Homo sapiens: one gene and its partner. The protein of the gene in region 1 purifies or fractionates together with the protein of each later gene. This does not show direct contact. Each region holds a gene or a part of one and is shown in the gene's direction. Other genes may lie near its edges.

Evidence for each region.
Region 2: the proteins of ARHGEF35 (region 1) and CCZ1B purify together in Homo sapiens (co-immunoprecipitation; one large-scale study listed by IntAct). This does not show direct contact.

Annotation. Positions count from the first base shown.
Region 1 is NC_000007.14:144,189,026-144,192,845, reverse strand, and holds part of ARHGEF35 (rho guanine nucleotide exchange factor 35), read left to right. Parts: intron 1-3,820.
Region 2 is NC_000007.14:6,812,497-6,816,316, reverse strand, and holds part of CCZ1B (vacuolar fusion protein CCZ1 homolog B), read left to right. Parts: intron 1-1,471; coding exon 1,472-1,553; intron 1,554-3,279; coding exon 3,280-3,341; intron 3,342-3,820.

The DNA of each region.
Region 1 (3,820 bases):
GTCAATGGGCTTGCAGAGGCAGGCATGCACTGTGCCACTAGATTGGAACAGAAAATGTCCAGGTAGCACATGGTATTTATAGATATACCCTAGATATGGCAGAAACACACTTTTATTTAGAGGCTACTTGTTTTGAAGACGTGATGGTGTATATGGAGGAGAGGGCCTGAACCATGCAGATGTAAGTGAGGAGAGACTACAGGTTTAGTCCCATGGTCTCCTTAGGCCAAGTTTCAGAAAGTGTCTTAAAGTAAGCAAGTATATTATTCGATGTGTGGTTGAGAGAACAGGGCCACATCACAGAATCACCCATAGGGATTATAGTATTTTGTACTTAAGGGCTAGACATAGGGAGCCAATCGCATATGGTGTCAGTTAACTGGAAAAGGACATAAAAGTCCTTCTGCCTGTGTACAATTATGTCAGACATATCTCTTTGCCCCATATAGATGGTATCTCTGTCTCTGGGATGGCCAGAATCTTGTCACATACTACTCTGCAGTGTGCTAGGGACCTGCCTGTTTGGTTATGTCAGGCTCTATTGCAAGAGTTTGTAAGGATGGCTCAGTGTGTGTGTGTGTGTGTGTGTGTGTGTGTGTGTGTGTGTGTGTGTGTACACACAGTGGCTAAGCAGGACAGTATTCTGAGCAGGTGAGTTTTCAGTTTAAGCCTGGACCAGACAAGAAAGGTGCACGGTCAGGTGCAGCATTGGGTCCATAGAATTCTGGGGTCTTCTCTGGACTGATGGCCTGCCAGCTTTCTTTCAGTAGGACCTCTAAGTGCTTACAGGAGACTTAAATCAAGCGACTTTGCTTCAGGTTTGCCCATACCATTTGCTTAGGAGATTTGAGCAAGGGTCTAGGGTCTTTGACCTTTAGTTTCTTCATCTGTAAATTGAGCAGTTTCTGTGTGTCTCTGAAGGTCCTTCCGGCTTTATGAATCCTGTGTTTCTCTCTTACACTTATTCTCTGTCTCTCAGGTCAACAGTATTTACCACAGCCACCATTTCTATGACCCTTAAAGATAGCAGTGTACATTTTTATGTTACCTTATTTAATCTTTACTAGAACTGTGAAGGAATCCTTTTATCTCCTTTTTAAAGATAAGAAAATGGATGTTCAAATAAATTTAATGGTTTCTACAATTGTCTTAAAACCAGCAAAGATACCAGAGAGGCACAACCAAACACTGATCCACACTCTTCTAACTCTATATTCTTCCGTCATTCATTCATACAATACATCTTTGTTGAGGGCCAACTAGGCTTCAGGCAGAGGGGGTTATATGGCAGTGTTTGTCCCTTCATGGTGCTCATAATCTAGCCTGGAAAATAGACATTAAATATGACATGACAAGTGCAAGGTGTGTTTGAGGAGAAGCAAAGGATTCTCTGTTGCAAAAGAGGATTCCAGGCAGAGGAGCAGTGTCTACAAAGGCCTACAGGTGAGAGACACAGAGAGAAGTGAGCTAAAGACACTGAAAGCCAGTGGGGGGGGGGGGGATGGGGGCAGGGACAGATGGTGACAGGTGAATAGGCTGCTAGAGAAGAAGGCAGAGCCAGGTTGTGCAGGGAGTATAACCCATGCTGAAGATTTAGATTTCATCTCAAGAGCATTCAGAGGCTGCTGAAGAATCTAAGCTAGAACTGGTGCTTTTGAAGCTCACTTAGGTGCTGTATGGAGAAAGGACTGGAATAACGTGAAATGGGTGGACGCCAGTGCCCAAGCTGTGGCCGGGTGCAGTGGCCCGGGCGAGACGGTAGCAGCATGCACCAGTGGAGAGGGATGGGATAGAAGTGGACAGTCTTAAGGGATATTTAGCAGACGAGGTCAATAGCACATGGTGATTGATTAGATATGGGGAATCTGGGCCAGGAGGGAAACAAGAATTTTATTTTATTTTAATTAATTAATTAATTTATTTAGAGACAGAGTCTCACTCTGTCACCTAGGCTGGAATGCAGTGATGTGATCTTGGCTCACTGCAGCCTCTGCCTCCTGGGCTCAAGGGATCCTCCCATCTCAGCCCCCAAGTAGCTGGAACTACAGGCACGTGCCACCATGCTCCACTAATTTTTGTATTTTTTGTGGAGACAGGGTTTCACCAGGTTGTCCAGGCTGGTCTCAAACTCCTAGATTCAAGCAGTCAACCTGCCTCAGCCTCCCAGAGTGTCAGGATTATATATATAAAGTGCATTGGGAAACTCAGTTTTTCATCTGTAAAATGGGCAGAATAATGGTACCCATCTTATACGATGACTCTTAGATGTATGGCACATACATATTTAAAGAAGCATTTCATTATTTTTAATGACATGTATGCAGGAAAACCTTAGTGTTTCAGAATGAAAAATAAGAAAAATTAATTTGTTGTGTATAGAGCTCTAAATGTTTAAAGTTCTGTGTAAACTGTTAATCATGATTTTAGGAAAAGGTGGGCATATTCCATTGAAGTAAAAGGATCACATTTTATTCTGACCTGAATTTTATTCTTTATGTGAAAAATATTTATTAAACACTGAGTATAGGCCACTATTAGGCTAAGTATGGATAATTCAGCAAGTCATAGTTCTTAATCTCATAAATTTTACTATCTATTGGTTGCAATAGAGGGTAACTCAAAATACACACATCATTATATAATTATAATTGTATAAATGCTACAAAGGAAAAGTAAAGTGAATTATAGTTGGTAAGTGCTACAAAGAGGGGTACAATTTAACCTACTTAAAAGATCAGGGGAGGCCAGGTGCAGTGGCTTACGCCTATAATCACAACACTTCGGGAGGCCGAGGCGGGTGGATAACGAGGTCAGGAGATTGAGACCATCCTGGCCAAAATGGTGAAACCCCGTCTCTACTAAAAGTACAAAAATTAGCTGGGTGTGGTGGCACACACCTATAGTCCCAGCTACTCGGGAGGCTGAGGCAGGAGAATCGCTTGAACCCGGAGGTGGAGGTTGCAATGACCCAAGATTGCACCACGGCACTCCAGCCTGGGTGACAGAGCAAGACTCCATCTCAAAAAAAAAAAAAAAAAAGAAAGAAAAAAAAAGACTGGAGGAAACTGAAGGGGTAAAACCAGGAAAATGTAATACCACAAGTAACAAGAGAGTATTTCTAACCTCAGTACTGTCAAATACTGACAAGAACCACCCAAAGTGAAGATCCATAAGGTCTTCTTTGGAATTAACAACATGTTGATTGTAGGGAATATTGGCAGAATGCCGCTATCAAAGCTCAGTTGGAGGCAGGTGGGATGTGAGAGTATGAAGACAGCAGATAAGAGCAACTCCTTCTAGTCATTTGAAAGATGAGAAGAATGTGGGAATGCTTCCATACCCCAGGGGTTGTTCAGCAGGGATGTTGAAGGTATGAGTGCACAGTGTTCCTGGGGAAGCAGGCAAGAAATGACAGAGCATGGAAAGGAGGGATACGTCTTTTCCTGACTGAGGGCGGAAGATAGAAAGAGTGGAAATACAGGTTGCTTTGGATCACAAGAAATTGAGGTGAGAGAAACCCAGTTCCATCAGTTTCTATTTTCTTTGCAAAATAGGAGATGAGGTGTTCTGCTGGAAGTGAGAAGAAAGGCAGGAAGGTCGAAATCAAAAGACAGGAAGGTCAAAAGAATTAATGAGAAGAGTTCATATGGATACTGAGGCCAAGGGGAGAGTAAGGTGATGCAGAAAGCACCCTTCTGTGGTCTTCCTTCAAGGTGGTAATGTGTCTAGTTCAACACTAATCCAATAAGGCTGTTATCATCCCACTTTACAACAGCTGCCTCTAGAATTGGAAACAAAACTGTTAGTTACAATGCTGTAG
Region 2 (3,820 bases), about 140 Mb from region 1:
GTAGAGACGGTGTTTTGCCATGTTGGCCAGGCTGGTGTTGAATCCCTGACCTTAGGTGATCTGCTCACCTTGGCTTCCCCAAGTGCTGGGATTACAGGTGTGAGCTTCCGCGCCCGACCACCTTCACGGTATTTCAGTGATCTTGAATAGAAAACGCCCAGATCCAGCCTCATTGTCTGTCTCCTTTTAAAAAACCGGTTCCAGAGTCTGATACCTGCTAGTTTCTCTGTGCTTTTTCCATGTGCTGCTCCTTCCTGCCTCATTTCAGATCAGATGGTTTGCCTGAAAGCTTGTTTTTCTCTTCCTCCTCTTTCTTCACCGAAGATCCGGAGAATTAAAATCCATGTACATTTCTGAGACCTAGGATCACGTTCCCTGTCTACAGCATACCCATATTTTCCCAGGGGACTAGGGGAGAGAATGTGGCATTACCATATAACCCAGGAAGCTAAGAGACATCTGCTCCTAAAATGAAACAGTGTGGCTTTGGAGGTTTCCTGCATAATCCTACACGGAATTCAACCAGCGAGTCCAATCCCTTGTGACTTTTTTTTTCATCTCAAATGGCATGTAAAATACAGGACTGTAGGAGTAGCCTTTTGCAGGTCAGGATAAAGTTCCAGTGCCTGGGCTGAAGTTTAACTCTTTACCTTCCTTAACTTCGCGGTCAGGTGGTGAGCCTCTTGATATAATGTTAAAGAAAAAAGCACCAGTTGTCCCAGCTACTCAGGAGGCTGAGGTGGGAGGTTTGCTTGAGCCTGGGAATCGGTGGCTGCAGCAAGCTGTGGTCACACCACTGTAATCCAGCCTGGGCGACAGACGAGACTCATCTCTTGAAAAATGAAAAAAGATGAGACCAGGCACAGTGGCTCACATATGTAATCCCAGCACTTTAGGAGGCTGAGGCGGGAGCACTGCTTGAGTCCAGGAGTTCGAAACCAGCCTGGCAACGTAGCAAGACCCCCATCTCTACATAAAATACAAAAATTAGCTGATGGTGGCGCATGCCTGTAGTCCCAGCTAGTCTGGAGGCTGAGATGGGAGGACCGCTTGAGCCCTGGAGGCCAAGGCTGCAGTGAGCCATGATCGCACCACTGCTTCCAGCCTGGGTGACAGAGCAAGACCTTGTCTCAAAAAAAAAAAAGAAAAAAAAATTTTTTTTTAATAAAAAATGAGCTTTATCCAGGGCTTCAAATTCTTTGGAAAAGTTTGACAAAGTATACCACGTAAATTCAGATTTACCTCAATGCTAAGAATTATGTTTAGGAAAAAGGAAACTCATTTTGATCTCAGGTAGAAAAATAGATTGCTTTGAGTTTTAAGTAGCTTTAAACTTTAAAAAGTTAGAATTTATTCTGTGTTACTAAAAATGACTTGAAAAAAAAATTTTTGTTTAATGAGCTTTATCACAGCAGTGGAAAGACAGAAGACAGTTCGAAACGTTTAACCCAGTGCTTTTCTGTTGTTGCAGGAGTGGATTAGAACAAGATGACATGAGAATTTTATACAAATACCTTACCACCTCCCTTTTCCCAAGGCACATCGAACCTGAGGTATGATGGGTACCATAGCTGCACACAATTACATGCAGGGGCACAGAGAGGGCAGGTGGAGTGAGATGGTGGTGCATGGGGGTGTTTCTGATCGTTTCTGATGTATGTTTTGTCTTAGTGTGTTATTTATGTCACTGTATATCAATTAGCACAGAAAACCACATGCAGCTCTCCTCCAGTATGTGACATTCAGATGTGATACAGAAAGCATCGTTTTGTGTGTCTGTGTGTTGGTTTTTTTGTGTGTGTTTTTGTTTGTTTGGTTTTTGAGACGGAGTCTCGAACTTTCACCTGGGATGGAGAGGTTCAAGCAATTCTCCTTGCCTCGGCCTCCCTAGTACCTGGGATTACAGGCGCCCGCCACCACGCCCAGCTAATTTTTTTGTATTTTTAGTAGAGACAGGTTTCACTATGTTGGCCAGGCTGGTCTCGAACTCCTGACCTTGTGATCTGCCCACCTTGGCCTCCCAAAGTGCTAGGATTACAGGCGTGAGCCACTGCCCCCAGTCCACAAAGCATGTTTTTAAGAGGAGTGAGTCATTGAGTAGAGGAAAATTGGATTTTATTTTACTTTTAATTTATGTATTTTATTTTATTTATTTATTTATTTATTTATTGGGACAGAGTTTCGTTCTTTTCGCCCAGGCTGGAGTGCAGTGGTTTAATCTCAGCTCACTGCAACTTCCGCTTCCTGGATTCAAACAATTCTCCGGCCTCAGGCTCCCAAGTAGCTGAGATTATAGGCACCTGCCACCATGCCTGGCTAATTTTTATATTTTTAGTAGAGATGGAGTTTCACCATGTTGGCCAGGCTGGTCTCGAACTCCTGACCTCAGGTGATTGACCTGCGTCAGCTTCCCAAAGTGCTGGGATTACAGGCGTGAGCTACTGCTCCTGGCCAAAAAAATTGGATTTTAGGTTGGGTTCTAGAAACCTTTAAAATGCCAGTGATCTTTAAAACAATCAACCTGTGTAGTATTTTCCTCTATCAACAGGAGACCTAATTTTCAGTAGATGTTTTAGTGCCTACCTGGCTTTCCACTCTAGTACTTAATTTCCTGGTTTCCTGCAGAGAACTTTTAAATGATATCACTGTGTTCTCCCCAAAGTATTTTCAGAGCTTAACACACAAAAATCATTTTGGCTCAGTTGAACTCACTCTCTTCGCTTGTTCATTCCCTCCCTCTTGTCCTCCCGCTCTCCAATATTTTTTTTAAGAGATGAGGTCTCACTTTGTTGACTCGGATGGTCTCAAACTCTTGGGCTCAAGCGGTCCTGTCACCTCAGCCTCCCAAGTAGCTGAGACTACAGGTGTGTGCCACCACACCTGGTTAATTTTTTGTAGAGATGGGATCTCGTCATGTTGCCCAGGCTGTTCTCAAACTCCTGGGCTCAAGTAATCTGCCTGCCTTGGCCTCCCAAAGTGCTGGGATTATAGGCGTGAGCCACCTCACCTGGCCAAAAATTTAAAAACTAGCCAGGTTTGGTCACACATGCCTCTATCAGGAGGCTGAGGTGGGAGGGTTGCTTGAGCCTAGGAGTTCAAGGCTATAGTGAGCCATGATCATGCTGCATGCATTCCAGCCTGGGCAACAGAACAAGATCCTGTCTCTAAAAGAAAAAGACAAATGGCATGGAACCAATTAGTAGATAATGCTGTTTTTCAAAGCTTGGAAAATAAATAAAAAGTCTGATAAGTCATTCTCAACATTAAATGTATTTGCAGTTAGCAGGAAGGGATTCTCCAATAAGAGCAGAAATGCCAGGAAATCTTCAACACTATGGAAGGTAGGACTTCTGTTCTTTGATTTATGATACTGGGTTTTCTTTCTTTTTTGACTCAGAGTCTGGCTCTGTTACCCAGGCTGGAGAGCAGTGGCAAGATCTCCGCTCACTGCAACCTCTGCCTCCCCGGGCTCAAGTGATTCTCATGCCTCAGCCTCCCAAGTAGCTGGAACTACAGGCATGAGCCACTATGCCTGGCTAATTCATTTTGTATTTTTAGTAGAAACAGGGTTTCATCATGTTGGCCAGGCTGGTCTTGAACTCCTGACTTCAAGTGATCCACCTGCCTTGGCCTCCCAAAGTGCTGGGATTACAGGTGTGATCCACCATGCCTGGCCTATTATCTTTTTGGTAAAGATAATATGGACATTGAAATATCTTTGTGCCATCTGATTGACAGTAATCAACAAAGGAAAGTTTGTTGTTTCCAATGAGTTAAAACTTACTTCAGCATACCCTTTTTTTTTTTTTTTTTTTTTTTT